3 separate regions of the Homo sapiens genome follow, and regions 2 and 3 are each linked to region 1. The links come from fine-mapping of genetic effects on gene expression. A gene starts in region 1. Each other region holds a variant in brackets. All regions are shown on one strand. Distances are between the middles of the regions.

The links.
Region 2: its variant is fine-mapped to the expression of NRP2 in monocytes after LPS (Fairfax 2014, PIP 0.95).
Region 3: its variant is fine-mapped to the expression of NRP2 in aorta (GTEx, PIP above 0.99). The same link has a PIP of 0.9 or more in tibial artery.

What each region holds. Positions count from the first base shown.
Region 1 is chr2:205,679,819-205,685,042 of GRCh38, reverse strand. It overlaps NRP2 (neuropilin 2), which reads right to left and starts at 2,542. Exons shown (of 17, transcript NM_003872.3): 1 at 1,680-2,542. The coding sequence starts at 1,752. RefSeq lists an enhancer at 1-547 and a silencer at 3,022-3,141.
Region 2 is chr2:205,742,643-205,747,866 of GRCh38, reverse strand. NRP2 (neuropilin 2) reads right to left here. Exons shown (of 17, transcript NM_003872.3): 9 at 4,315-4,664; 10 at 1,977-2,121. Among named protein-coding and RNA genes, the nearest start is that of NRP2, 63 kb to the right of the region's middle. RefSeq lists an enhancer at 679-1,230. The variant T/C (reference allele first, on the strand shown) is at 2,540.
Region 3 is chr2:205,755,424-205,760,647 of GRCh38, reverse strand. All of the region lies in intron 12 of NRP2 (neuropilin 2), which reads right to left. Among named protein-coding and RNA genes, the nearest start is that of NRP2, 76 kb to the right of the region's middle. The variant T/C (reference allele first, on the strand shown) is at 2,426.

The DNA of each region.
Region 1 (5,224 bases):
CTGAGTCTTCACGACCCCTCCCGCTCCGCACAGCACACGGAACCTGAAGTTGCATGTGTGTGCGCGCCAGTGTGAGTGCCAGTGTGTGCGCGCTCGCGCGCTGGGGCCTACTGGAGTCCGTGTCTGAATACATAATATACTGTGGGCATCCTCACGGCGCGCGCGCGTGTGCACACACACACAGCGAATCACACAAACATACATAATTTACGCAGCATCCAGGTCTGTGAGTGGTAATTTAATTCCGCTTCAAGCTGGGAATTTAGAAATAAGGCAAGGGGGAACGGCGGAGGCCCAGAAAATCTCCCCAAGTGGGACCCCCACCCATCCCTTTGGCAGGATTTGCAGCTGCCCTGAAGACCACTTATGGCAAAGAAAGAGCTGCAAACGTGCGGATCTGGGTGGCAAAGGCATTCCTGAATTTTCTTCCCCCCTCAAATAAATGCCCAAGCTTAAAGTGGTGTGTGTGCTGGTGGGGGGCGTGAGGAGAAGGAAGGGTGACAGTACCAGATGCAAGGCTAGGATCCACTAGCTGATGTTCTGGGGATGCCAAGGAGGCTGCAGAGTTAGCTCTACCACTGCCGCCATCGCCTTGCAAGTGCCTTGGGTGAGGGCACTTCAGGAAGGCTTTTTCGCCTTTCTTTCACCCATTTCCTCCATAGATGGTTTCTCCATCTCCAATCACCTGTAGCAGCTGCTAAGAGTTTTGTTGTTAGATTCCAGACACTGTTCTCAGAGGGGTAGGGAGGCTCACTCTAGAGAGTGGTCCGAGAAGGAAGCACAAACCCCACTGCATTCCCCATGGATTCCCCTTTCCAGAGCATACCCCTTGCCGCTCCCCACAAATGCGGTCCCCAGACTGTTCTGGGCCTCGAAATGCTTATCTCCACAGCAGCCTGTCCACACACCCTTTTTGGCAGTGGTTGAGAACAAATTCCACTCAAAAGTTTCTAACCACTTCACAAGAGTGAGAGACCTTCGAGGGCCTGCAATTTGTTTTAGCTAATAATAATTTCTAAAAGAACGTACGATTTACTTTCCCAGACAACACATGGATGAAGAGAGAAGAGACCAACCGTCTTGGTTGCCAGCAGCACCCAACCCCAAGCCCCTATCTCAGCCACAAGCCAACTTGCTCCACCAGCCTGAGCCTTATGATTCTGAAGCATAACCAGTCATTCTCCAAAGAATCTACAGCATCTGAAAACCAAAACTAAACTCTTGTCTTTCCCAAGCCCTTCAGTTAACATTGCTCAATGTAGCTAAGTGGAGGGAATGCAAATGATTTATATTTCACTGGCTAGTTGGAGAAACTCAAGGGAGATGTGTTCTGCTTCAAGACAGGGAAAAAAAATTCCCAAAAACTGTAATGCAAAGGCTTTGTAGTATTTTTAAACCTTTGATTCAGTCCATATGTGACATATGAACACCGCCAAATTCTGTTTCAAAACACACTCACACACACACACACACACACACACACACACTCCTAGCAGGAGAGGAAAGTTGGGTTTTAGCAGCCGTGGTGGTGTAGGAAGGGCCGGCTGGGATCTCTCTTTAAATTATTGAGTACTGAGGGAGCCTTCTTCTGTGCCGTTCTGCGTGGCCTTCCTGCTTTAGCGGTCACTTTTAAAGGGGAAACCATGTTGCAATAAATAGAAAAACTTTCAGTGGCTTACCTGGTTGGCCTCTCACTTGGTGTCTTGAAAAGTAGAGGGCTAAGAAAACCCAGGTGAGAGGAAACATATCCATTTTGGAGAAGGTGGCTCTTTCCAGAGCTGGGTTCGTAGGTTTCTTGTTTAAATCTTTGTGTTTTTCTCTCTTTTATTTTCCTCCTTACAACGTCTTATGCAGAGGTTTCTAATGGTCAGCGTTTCCCTCCTGAGTCCTGGTGGCTTGTCTTCACCTCTATTCTTGCTGGAATTTCCACCTCACCAGGAGGAGAGTAGCTCCTGAAATCAGCAAAGAGGGAACAAGCCGGGAAGAGAACACGGTTTTCCTCTTAAAAACAAAACGCATATATGTTCTCTCCAGTTCCTCAAAGTGTCATTTCCTTTATCCTACAAATATCACGAGTATTTCCCGAAAGCCAAGCGTAACAATAATGATAATAATAATAATTAAAACCAAGACTTGCCTTGGGCATCACACGGCCCCCAGGCAGCTGTGTGATCTCAGAGGCGTAAACTGACACACATCCCGCGGCACCCTTGACGGACACACGGGCGGAGGCAGCCGCCGCCGGACAGCCCGAGTGGAAGGCGGCCGCCCTGCTCTTGTCCTCGCCGGGTTCCCCCGGCGGGAGCCTCCCCCAACGGCTACACCCGCTTGGCCAGCCTCTCGAGGGGAGTCTGAGGAAGGAAGCTGCTGCTGCTGTTGCTGCTGCTGGTGCGGCGGCGGTGGCGGCTGGGATCGCCTGGGAGTGAGCGAGCCCCTCTCCGAGTTCGCTGGCGCCCGCCCTCACCTCCACCTCGCCGAGTGTCTGTGCGGCTGAGGATGTGCTGGGGGCCGGCTGCAGGCTGGTGCCTCGCTCGCGATCTCTGCCTCCCCTCCGGCTCCCCACTGCCTTTTCAGGCCGAGCAGCATGTGGATGTCAGAGCCGCGGCAGAGCTATCCGATTACGCGCCGGCTCAGGGCCCGCCCCTTCTGTGTTCCTGATTAAAGAGGCAGCCGCGGAGACGCGCGGCGCAGAGCAGAGTGCCGCGGCACCCAGCTCGGGCGGGGCGGCGACGGCTTCTCTCGGGCCGCCGCAGGATCGAAGTTAAGGCGGCGCCCATCCCACCACCCCTCGCCCGCCCCGCATCTCCCGATCGCCCCCGCGCACCTCCGCGCCGGGCCGCCGGTGCGTAACGCCCTGGGGAAGAAGCGCCCCCGGGCACCCCCAGGGCGCGCCGCCTTGGCCGTGTCGCCCCCACCCAAGGGAGACCCCGGGGGGACGGGGGGAAAAGCCTTGTTCCCCCTAAATTCCACGACTCCGATGCCACACACGCAGAACCCAACACAATGCCACGCGCGATGGCGTTACAAGAGGAGTTGGGTGGCGTACGGTGTTTGGGGTAGCGAGCCGGTCGGCAGCTCAGCCATGCGTTCGAACAGGCAGCGGTGCGTGGCGGCGACACACACCGTCAGCCCGGTCTGAATAAAACCCCAAACACTCGCTGCGTTTACTACTCAGATCCTTTGTTATGTCCCAAACATGCTCTGCTCCTCTCTGGGTTAGGATTTCGTTACCCCTGCGCCTTTAACTGTAACTACCCTAAAAAGAGGAAAGACTTTCTTCAGCAAATAATTTCTTCAGGTAATTAAATTGGATTCCATCAAGTTCCCCCGAAAAAGTATAGGTGCTTGAAGGCGTCTCATCCAAATGCTACTGTAACTACGTCTATTCACATTTTCCCCCATGGAAACGTGGTCACAAAGCCTAGAGAAAGAAAACATCATTATGCCAACTATTTTTAAATGGAGGCGTGAAAACTGTTTAGAGGGAACTGCAAGCTAACAGTTGGGGAAACACTTGTATCTTTGTTTCTGAGGATGGCTTTGTGGATTCCAAACTGTCTTGCTTCACCAGACACCTATTACTACATTATCATAAAGACTGCAACAGAAACAGCCTAAATTACACCCTGCACATGTACACCTTTTCTGCCACAAAAGAGGTATATGAAAAATAAGAAAATTCAGAAAAATATTTACAGATTAAGATTTTTTTTAAATTAAGAAAGTAAAATTTTCTGTAGATTAAGAAAAATACAGTTTCGGTGACGAGAAACACACACCTGACTACCCATTTTCTTCTTGGCTTGTACTTGTGGATTCTTCTGGGTGGTTTCCCTCCTTATCTGGACTTGCCCATTAGCTTTATCACTTTTAGTGTTTGAAAAATCTGTAACTCCCACTTAACTGTTATTTACACTGAGATAACCAAAACAAAATTGAATCAGAAGTGATTTGCAAATAGTTGAGCCAAGCTGTGTTGGGGGGTGGCGCGGGATTTTAGAGTGGAAATCCACAGGCTGAGTATCACACTGTTAATCTCAGATGCCTGGTTGGGAAAGGCACAGCACAGAGGCCTCTGAGTTCTTCCAGGGAGCATGTCTCTTGGCTAGCCTAAATGCTACCTTTCATTCCCTCTTTGCCTCCCTCCTTCCTCTTCCTCCCTCCTTTCCTTCCTTCTTCCTTCCTTTCTAGGCTTGAGAGCACATCCACATTATTAAAAACTCCAGATTTACATTTCTCCTCTTTAAAGCTCAATTGTAAAGAATGACTCCAAGCCTTAAATATTTAACAAAGTAAAAGAGCAGTTTGGATTATTAACCTTAAGCAGAGATCCCGGTTTATGTCATTGCCAAGATGCTAATCTAAGGACAAAGAACGCTATCTGTAGTGACAGTCCCTGAATAGAGAGGGCCATTTAATATCACCTCTCCCCACCACTCACCAGGCATGCCAAACCATTTTTGCCAGTGCCCAATGTGGGAGACTCCTGTTTGTGAGAATAATGTAGCCAGGGTTTAGGTGAAGGGCACTGTGAAAGGGGGAAAGAAGAGAGAAAAGGTAAACCTAAGCCCACTGGAGAACCATAAGAATGACAACCCTGGACTTCTGGTCTTGGGGTCTCAGGGATGAAGGTCCCCATCAGGCTGCTTCCAGAGTAGAGAAAAGTAAGAATCAGTTTTGTTCCTGGCCTGGTTGCCTACACTGTAACTTTTCATTTTTCAGCGGTGTCCTACAGGGGACGCTCACTTACTTCCTGGGAGTCCTCTGTACCAGGGCTGCAAGACTTCCCACTCCCCTTGAGTGAAGGCCTCATTTCCTGCAGTTGGACAGAGAGTGAGTCTCAGGTTTCCATCCCTGGGGACTCAAGCGGCCAGACCATTTTTCAATCCTCTAGGGGGCAGCACTCAATAAATAATGGTAACACCACCCAGGGTCACACTTCTGGTGGTGCTTTTAATTCCAAGGAGTTCAAAGTGCTTTATCAGACCAGGGAAGATTCAGAGTGAGGCCGATCTCTCCCCAGCCTACTCTGAACAAGACCCCACCGGCCCAGAGAGGGCTTAGAATTGTTTTAACCTAAGACTTCCAAGGACTCTTGGGAACTAAACACAAATCTCACATGTGCCACATGGAAAACAAATCTTTAGGGAAATTCTTCACACTGGGACTGGCTCAGACCTGCCAGTCTTGTTTCCCTCTAGACTGGGATCTCAGGGTTTGACTG
Region 2 (5,224 bases), 63 kb before region 1:
TGACCATCACCAGTGTAATTTGGGGCATGTTGGGATTGGGGAGCAATGAAGGAAAGAGGTCATTAGCAACTGTCCCACTGGCCAGACTGGGAGGGCATGGCACTGAAGGGCAAGGGATGGGGGGAAGAATGAGGTGGACTTCATCCAGCTGAGTGACCTCTGGCAAGTGACTTCTACCTTCTGGGGCTGTTTCCTTGTCTATGAAAGAGGAATTGGCCCAGGTCTGTGATATTTCCCAAACCACGCATCACTCTCATCATTGGGTTGTGGAATCCGTCGAATAGGTCATGACCAGCTTTTAAAACATACCGACTATAATATTTTGGAGTGCACTTCCATGGTTAAGATGACCATTGCTTTGGGAACCTTTTGTTTCAGTTACAGTTATTTATCATAACAGGTTTGCTGGGTGCAGGCAGTAGTCTAAGTATTTCACATCCATTCATTCATTTAATCCTCACAATGACCCTATGGGGTAGACAGACTATTGTCCTCTCCATTTTTCAGCTAAGATAACCAAGGCGCTGAGAGACTAACTTTTCTGAGGTTATGCAGCCAGCCAATGGCAGGGGCAGGACTTGAACTTGGCAATCTGTCTCCAGAGTCCAAGCACTTACCCATACACTGTACCCCGTATACACCACTGTGTGTGAGTGCTTATAAGTGAAGCGGGTTGTGAAGGAAAATTATTTTAAATTGTGTATCATGGGCAGAAGTGTGTGAAAGCCACTGGCTTACAAGCTCCTGGATCCCCTACAGCGCTGAGCCCCTGATTCCAGGGCACATAAATGAAGCCAGCTTGTATCGGGGGGAGGTTTTCTGCACCTGTGAGAGGACGGGTGACACACGTTTAGCAGGCTGCAGGGAACTTTGGCCTCATCCCCAGGTAATGGGGAGTTAAGTGTCTTCCTATGAAGATGTGTTCGCTGGGGCTGCCTTCAATTCAAAAGTGAGGAGGCTAATTTGGGCCCAATTCCCAGCCCGTGTGCCTCAACAGGGCTCCTCTGCGCTGCTGTAGCCAGCATACAGGCAGCATTTTTCTCCCTGGGAGCCAAAAGCACTTCTCCGACATGCCCTTATTAATCCCTCATGCCATCCTGCCGGCTGAGCCCGTGACAGGTACGGCACAGACAGGAAAATGGGGATACCTGGGGCTCTGGCGGAGGAGGGCAGGATAGCTCAGGCTGGTGGCTGCTCCTGCTGGCATCAGGCTCAGTCCCTGAGCCCCAGTGGCTCCCACAAACTCCTTTTGGCAGGCAGTGAGTGAGCTCTGGGTAAGATCTGGTGCCAGCTCTGCTGAGGGAGGAGGGCTGGCGACCCAAGGAAAGGAAGGTAGGGCCTGACTCAGAAGGGCAGGGCCCTCCCTCGGAAACCAGGAAGGCTGGGCACCCTCCGTGGGCCTCACCCTCATTTGGAATGATGAGAGGTGTTCCCCAAGGCCTGGGCCACCTGGCAGGAATGAGCAGGACAATGAGAAGGAGTCCTGCCCCCATCAGCTCCCTGCAACAGGGTCCCTCCTGAGCAAATAAATGCCTTTTACAGATGTGGCTCCGAAATGAAAATGAAGTCTCTTAGCCACTGACATCTGGAGGCCAGATTCAGACATAAACCGATTACTTTATTATCATGAGGGGTTTTTTTCTTCCCTAAATCAACAGCCACAGCCCTCTGGCCTGAAGAGCCAGGGTCTAATTGAATTTGGGTGGGTGGTGTGTGGTTATGATTTGTTTTTGAGAGACTCGGGTTGGAGAACTGAAATGATCCCTTAAAAAAGACAAAGTACATCCCTTGAGAAACTGTCCCAAGTCCAGAGGCTGCAGTACCCGTGGTCTGAGGCAGGAGAACATGGCAGGGGTCTGCAGCATTTCCAGCTCCTGGGATGGCTGCCCCCTCCACAGCCCTCCCAGGGCCTCGTGGGATGCCAGGGTCAGAGGACCATGTGGGTGAGATGCAAAGAGGAGGAAATGTCATCTTACCTGTCCAGTCACAGCCCAGCACCTCCAGCCGCATCCCAATCCCCGCCGGCGACCACCTCTCCGGGTATACCCGCACATACTGTGCCGGAATGGGGTCAAACCTTCGGATGTCAGGGGTGTCATAGTGCATGTTCCCTTCGAACAGCTGCAGGGAGAGAGGCCACTCAGCCCTTCTGGTGTGGGACCCAGTCCCTATCACCTTCTTCCCTTTCCTTCCCCTTCTCCTCCCTGCCCCGCACGTCCTGCTAGGAAGGCAGCTTCCTAGTTGATTCCTGGTCACTGGGACATTCTGATCCACGCGAGCTTCATTTTCAGACCAAGGATTTTATTCATTTGGAAGGTGGTTATGGACCCAGAATTATGGAAAATAGGAAGTAAACAAAGGTGGCAATTTCCAGGTTGTGTCTTTTACCTGGTGACTAAAATGGAGTATCTGGGGAAGAATTTGGCTCCAACTGCGTTTTCAGCTGACTTTGGCTAGAGAGGGGGGAAGGCAGTTTGGGCGATCTTTGACCGTTCTGAATTCCTGGTCTACAGGGAAAGGAACACTTCTTTTTCTAATG[T/C]GTGAAAGCCTCCATTGAGGTAACCCAAGCTGACTGATAGTTCCTAGCTCACTGAGAACCTTACGGGAAAATGACCCCTAGGCCAATGACACTGTCTTCTGGTCACACATCGATAGTCTTAGACTGTTTCCCAAACCTTTGTTTAGGGAAAGCACTCCTGTCAAAAGAAACCTCACATGGAGCCCCAGTACATAAAACTGATGATGCGGGGAGCAGGGGGCTGCTTTGGAGGACCAGCCTAGAGTACACTTGGAGACACTCATCCGGGGGAAGGACAGGAGTGGGTGGCCAGGGCCTGCAGCTGATTAGCCCCCAGAAATTCAGCAGGACCGCTCCAGTTTTCAGGATGCCCTGCGTCCACAATTCTGAACCAGAAGCACTGTCTCGGATAGGGCTGTCTCCCACAATGGCAAAGATCAACTTCTTTCCCAAGAAAAACCAGGCTCAGCTCTCCATGGGGAAGCCTGCGGTCCAACTTCTGCTCCATCGATGCAAGGTTCCAGTTACCAAGCCCTGAGCCTTTCTAAGCCTCTGGAGTTGAGAGCTGGGAGTTTACCTCAGCATCGCAAAACCTCCAACCCAACTCTTGCCTCTGTATTCAGAATGGAGACATTTGCTTAGCAAAGGTGGCCCCGAGACATGCAAACTCCCTCCTTTTTTAGGGACCTGTTCTTTTGAGAAAAACAAGGGGTAACTAGAGATAAGAATCAGAGAGCCTGGCCTGCCAGGAGACTGATCTGGGGAGGGACAGAGGTATGACGTCTCCTCCCCTTCTGGGGCTCCTTGTGTCTGTGTTGAAGGCTGACCTTCACTCTGGTGGCAGGGGAGTAAGCTGTACTGGCCTGAGCTTCTGGCTCGGGGTGAGTTTCTCTTGCTTCTCCCTTGCCTCAGTCTGAGAGGCCGGAAAGATCTAAGCAGTCAAAACTAGGAGAATACAAAGGAATGCAGCGACATTCAGAAAAACATCGTTATTTTTGGAAGTCATCCTCTAGTTTCTATAGCTTGGCCTCCAAAAACCACATCCCCTTTAGATGTCTGGCCAATTTCAAGGAAACTTTATCTGAAAGAGTGTATAAAGAGTGTTGAACTTTATAAAAAGGCAGTGTTCAGTAGGGGTTAGGCATCTGGACTTTGGAGTCAGACTTCCGGTTTCTGAATCGGCTCTATCACAGGTGAACTGTGTGACCCTGGGCATGATATCAAGTGTCAGTTTATCATCTCTAAAATGGGAGTGACAAAAAGATCTACTTTGCACAGATGTTGTAACGATTAAAAAAGAGTCCAGGCCGGGCGCGGTGGTTCATGCCTATAATCCCAGCACTTTGAGAGGCCAAGGCAAGTGGATCACTTGAGGTCAGGAGTTCGAGACCAGCCTGACCAATACGGTGAAACCCCATCTCTACCAGAAATACAAAAATTAGCTAGGTGTGGTGGCGGGCACCTGTAATCCCAGCCACTCAGGAGGCTGAGGCTGGAGAATCGCTTGAACCCTGGAGGCGGAGGTTGCAGTGAGCCGAGAACAGGCCACTGCACTCCAGCCTGGGTGACAGAGACTCCATCTCAAAAACAAACAAACAAACAAACAAAAGAGTCAGAAATAAGGTATTTAGCACAGTGCCTGGCACAAAGTAATCTCTCAAACGATATTTGTTTTATTGGATTTCAGGAGTTGGATGACGACTGTTTAGATGGGACATCATCAGTCTCAACTCCCTGTACCACACTTAGCCTCCCTGTTGAGGGTAACGTTACAGAGGCCTCCAAGAACAGCCTACCTTTGGCTGCTGGGTCCTGGGGTCCTGAATGTATTCCCAGTCCTTGCCGTTTAGGCTGTAGGAGACTTTGAACTTGCGCACAAATGCTCTGGCTTCCACAGCAGTGATACTGTCTCCTCCGCGGGCTCCCTGGATGATGACACCTTTCACTGTCTTGGGTGTTCCCAGATCTACCTGAAGCCACTCCTCACCGGGCTGGGCCTGAGGGATTCGAGGGAACCAGCCCGAGCGGCTGCTAACCAGGCGGGCTGCACTGGGGCTCCAGAGGTATTCCTGGGTGGAAGAGGCGGAGATCTGGGAGTCTGCAATGAGGCCTGAGAGCATCCCCAGCATGTTGGAGCAGGGAGCATCTGCAGAGAGGAGAGGAAGATACAAGAGGTCATGGCTGACACCTGCTAACCAGGGACCACCCGCTATAAGAAGGGAGCTGCAAAAGAGCCCAACTGTCAAATACTAAGTCAGCACTAATTTCTTTGCATGGTGAATGTGTACAGCACTGTGGTTAAGAGCCTGGACTCAGAGCTAGACTGCCTGTGTTCATGTTCACTCTGCCACTTACTAGTCAGAGGGCCTTGGGCAAATTATTTAATTGCTCTTTGCCTCAGTTTCCTTAGATCTAAAGGGGAGCTAATAGAGGTGCCTACCTCTTGAGGGCTGTTGCAAGGATTCTGTTAGTTACTAAGAGCTCACAGGATGGTGCCTGGCATATTTAAGTATCCAATGGCCATTAACTATTTGTGCTTACAGCTCTAACCAAGGACTCTCAGAATGTGTGTCTGCACATCCCTGTCGATGACACTAGTCCCCACTGACCCTATCAGGGACACTGAGAACAGGGGAACTGAGCTAAACATTGAATTATTTCCTAGTAATTGTTTTGCCAAGTAGAAGGAAACCTTCCTGGCATCAG
Region 3 (5,224 bases), 76 kb before region 1:
TAGCCCCTTCCCCTCTTCTCTCCTTTCTCCTTCTCTCCCATCTCCCTCTCACGATAAAATGACAATCTCTATGCATGATTTAGGGGAACATTGCAAGACCAGGGAGTTAATGCTAGTGACATGCTTAGCACAAGCAGCTGAAGGATCATAATTCAGTGCTGACATCTGAGCTAATCCACTAGTCTGCAGAATCTCCAGACGAGCAGGCCTCTGGATTTCACTTCGTTAAATCATTTGTGCCCCACTTGTCTGTTAAGTGCTATGAGCTCCAGGGAAGAAAGATGATATGTAAATTTAAGGAATTAGCAGTAGACATCAGTCAGAGAGATGCTGAGCTGCAAAGCGCCTGTCACTGACAGAGGCCTGATTAGAACCAGGGACATCATGAAGGAATGACTCAGACCAGGAAAAGCCCAAGGAAGGGAGAAGAAGAGCAGGGGGAAAGGAATGAACACATTGAACACCTGCTGCCTGTGCGCGATCACACGGGAGGCTTTACCTGCCTCCCCTGATGTCACCTTCCCTGTGAAATCTAGCTCTGCAAAATAAATACCATCTTCTCCATTTTCACCAAAAAGAAACTGAGGCTCAGAGAATTGGAGTGACGTAGGATTTGAATCCTCATTGGACTCAGTAAACCTGCCACAGCATAGCTTCTCATCTGGATTGGACTCCCAGCCTAACTCACTAAGCTTTTAAAGCCTCAGTCTTTCCATCTGTAAAATGGATACAAAGACAGTCTTACTGCATAGAGTTGGGGGAAGAGTAAATGGAATGAGCCATGTAAAGTGCTTTGCACAGTAACAAGGACACATTAAGAGCTCAGGAAAAGTTGTTACTATTAATATCACTCTACACACTCCCTCCTATGCTTGCCTTTATTTTACTAGGAAACAAAAAGGATAGAAAGACCACCAATAACCCAGGAAGGCCAATCCAAGACTCAAAAAGAAGTATGTTTGGCATGAGGGCAGTAAAGATGTTCTCTGGACAAAGACTGGTTCCCCTTATCTGCTCTTTCTCCAGAAACCAGCCGGCCCCAAGTTTTCCATCACCACAGGTCTTTTGTGTTGCTTCACAGTAGATGAAATAAAATATTACATGATCCTGGAACAAGAGTGGGACCTCAAGTGATCTTAGGGCAGGCCAGTCCTGCCTCCCGGAGGAACCGTGCCAAAAGCATCCAAGAACAGCTGTCCACCCTTTGCTTTAAATTCTCCAGAGAAGGAGTTTCCATAGGCCACGTCTGTAGTGTGTTTTCTAGGTTACAACCCTAACCATCAGAAACTTCTTAAATTCAGTTTAAAGTTTTCCTGCTGTCATTTAGAGACATTTCCTCCTTCTACCCCTGATGGAGCATAGCCAATTTCTGTTTTCCAACTTAGAGACATTTTCACTTGTGAAGAATTAAGACTCGTAGTCTTTGCTTCCCTAGGAACCCTTGCCCCTTCAAATGTCTACTTCCTAGGGCATGGTTCAAATGTCTACTTTCTAGGGCAGTGTTGGTTTTCCACTGACCCTTCTTCCAAGCTATTATAAATGCTTCAGCTCTTTTAAGTCATGGCACCCACACATAGATATTGAGATCAAACACGTGCTGCAACTGAAGTTTGTTCTTCTGGAATCTCCCGATTTATGGCCCACCACTGTCAGACACAGAAGATGTTCTAGGTATACAGTGGCTACTGATTACTTGGACCGTCAAAAGAGCTGGTATGGTGGGGGCGGGGGGCTACTTTTTTATTTACTTGAACCTTGAGGTAAAGCCCTTTGGATTGTCAAGAGGTCGCCTGAACGTGACAACTGACCAGCTAAGAACCAGCCCTGCCTGTTCTTGTAGCTGATGGCTATGATGCCGGCAATGGACAGCTTCCAAGAAAAAGACAATGGAAAGGAAATATGTTCCATTGCTGAAAGAGATTGAAGAAATAATGTCCCAGAGATACAATTCCTCTCCTCCTGGACCTGACATACTTGGGAGGCATTTCGCTGGGTCCTTGACCCAAAACATCTGTTGTTGCCAATGATACAGGGAAAACAATCGCCTGGGAATGAACAACAGGAGTTCAAAAGGGTGAAGAGGAAGTACAGAGGACAGGGCCATTCAGCATTTTAACCTGCTGCTGTCTCTGGAAAGGTCTCTTGATATTTCACCTGGCGATTTACGGCCGCATCTGGCTTCAGCTGCTTAAGTGTCATGTGAACACGTGACTGCGACTGGCCCAACAGCAATGGAATCAGTTGTGTCTACACCTCACCAAACCCTGAAATAAATCACCAGCTTGATCCTCCTGGCTATCACAAAGCCAAACACACCATCTGTCCAACACGCACATCTCCTGGCTAGCATCTTGCCCTCCTACTAGAACGACCATCTGAAAGAATATTTAGTGCTGTAGGAGATGTAGTCTCTTTGCATAGTCCA[T/C]GCTTAAAACATGAGTCAGCCCTCAGCTGGCCTTCCAAGGTCTGCCTATCTCTGCTAAGGTCCTCAAATTAGCAACCAGTTAAGGGAAACACTGACTTTGGATAAACTTAGCAAGATGTTCTCAAGGTTTACAATAGACCATTTTGTGGACATGAAGGTTTCAGTCCTAGCCCTTGCAGGAATCTACCCAGAGCTGTTTTTTCACTCTGCCGGCTTTCATGAAGGTTTTGCCATTGAGGCTGTCTTGTCATTCTGCCCCTTCGTTATCAATCCACACACTGCTGGGGGACTCAACCAATCATGATTTGCAGGAAAAAAAAAAAAAGGGTAAAGAAAGCTTCTTCCTGCTGTTATTTTTTTCTGCAAAGCCTGGGATGTTTTTCTACCTTCCTTAAAGAAGGGCCTCTATCCTTTTCTTTTCCAGTTGAAATTATTCCTTGACTATTGGCTTTCTTTTAGCCAAGCTGCTCCTGATCTTTAATTATCTATCATGGTCCAGAGCCCAGGAAGTTCTGTCTCTGGATTTGCAGTGTCTGTGCCCCAGCCAAGCCACAGCAACCTCTTTCTGAAGACAGTTCAATCTAACAGCAATTCAATGGATTGTTTGCTGCCATCGGTCCCACCTGATCTTTTGAACTCAGAGTTGCTTTTCAATTCAGTCACCACTTGCTCACTGTCTAAAATCAAGCCCATTATGAGTAAATTCACTCATCAGTTATTTCCTCTGATTTCTCTGCAACCATCCACTCACCATACCCATCCACACTTCACTTAATCTTCTTGTGTGCGCCTCCACCGTGAATCATGGCTAAGGTCTCCCACTCTAACGGAATTCATTCAATGGCTCAGTCTGCATCAAAATAGCCCCAGTGAGGTGTTAACAATCTTACTTCTTACATTTGAAGGAATAGCCAGCCACTGTTTGTAAAATTTGGGTATTTTATAACATTAAGATTCTCGACTTACTCCCATTTGAGCTTGTTTTTGAGCCTAGAGTAAAGGTTCTGTTCCCTCAATCCCATAGGCTTTGACCAGGCAGTCAAAGCTCTGTTCAATATCAGCTTCGCTTGTTTTCTTTCTATCACTTTCATGATTGAAAGTCATTGAAGTAATACTGTAATCAGATTTCACAAGGCCAACCCACGAATAAAAGAGCACAGATTTAGGGGGAACACACACTGGAGGATTCTGAAGCTGACCTGGCCTAGTACCCTTTACCTCATCTTCTTTGTCTCATTCCTGACAATAAAAATGACACAACAATCACAATGATGATGATTATTGACCTTACTTAGTATTAATATTTACTTACAATGCTCTTTTTGATTAATCGCAATAGTTCCTACACCATCTAATGCCATGTTACTTGCTTACTTTACTGTAGTTATCTAGTGAGGGAGAATGAGACAGCTATAAAGATACCAGCCACTGAACACTCCATCAAGGGATCCCACAGAAGACACATCCCTCCATTACTTGCTTCTTGGTTCATACCAAAACCAGGGAACTAAAGAATCATCAAGGGCCCCTGGTGGTTGCTCTCATGTGAGTGTCCAAAGCACTGGAGCAGTGTTGTCCAATACATTCTGTGATGATGCCGTGTATACAGTGACGTGCCCTGTCTATGCACTGACCAATACAGTGTAGCTACTGTGCCCTTGGAATGTGGCTGGTGGGACAGCAGAACCGAAGTTTTGGCTGTAATCATTTTAATTAATTAAAATAAAATTGCCACACATGGCTCATGGCTACAATATTCAATGCTGCAGCTTTAGATACCTGCCCGCCCTATGAGTTTTTGTCTCGGTTCTTAAAGGCTGGGCTTTGATCATTCTCAAAACTCTGTCTATGTTCAAAGCACCTGAGAATGTAGGAAACATGCCATCTCCTAGTAAGGGGGTGCTTCCTATGTCATTGTCACTACAGAGGAAAGCCAAAGTGGCCTCTTAGAGAACACTGAGTGTTCCTCCGCAGCTAGCAGGGGTCACTGAATTTGGAACAGGGTCCCCAGAGGCTGGTGTGAACACACTCCAGGCAGCTAAGCCACAAGCAAAGAGCTAAAAACAGAAATTCTGACTGGCTTGAAAGACTATCTTGAAAAACAAAAACAGTGGAATGAAACCAGTGGGTGCTTTTCAGCCTTAGGCAACCACTGGCCAAAAAGAACAGAACTAATTGCTTACTTAAAAGGAAAAGGAAAGGAAAAAAAAAGAAAGAAAATATGAGAAAATAATGAAATCAGAAAATATCCGAGGAATGTAAGCAGTTTCCACATAGGGCCCGTGTTGGGTACTTCAACACGGCTAGCTCCTCTCCCATCCACCTTTCTCTTCACCCTGACGCCCCTCACACTTGACAGAGACACCTCCTTTCTTAAATTTCATTACTTCTGTTTGCCTATCTCATCAGGGGATGAAGCATATGGCACACGCTCGTGAAGAGTGGGACGGTCCCCTCTGTGGATGGCAAAGTGTGGCACACAACAGGCTTTCAGGCTGACTCTGTGGGCGCCAGCCGCTCTGAACCCATTAGCAGTTGCTCTGCCCCCAACCAAGCCAGCTGCTTCCCTTCTCCCCAATCCCCTCAGGGCCTCCCCCTCCTTTTTTTTTTTTCCCTATGGAGAAGAAGTAAGGACCACCCTGAACAGAAAGGGCTTTCTCTCCTCTCCTGCTTAAAGCCCAATATCAAGCTCTGTAGGGAGAAGGAAAATGGGAAATACAGAGAACGGTTCATAAAGTCATCAGAGGATAGAGGGAAGGGCTCTGAGAACAATATTATGATTTTGTTTCCTGGAGGCAG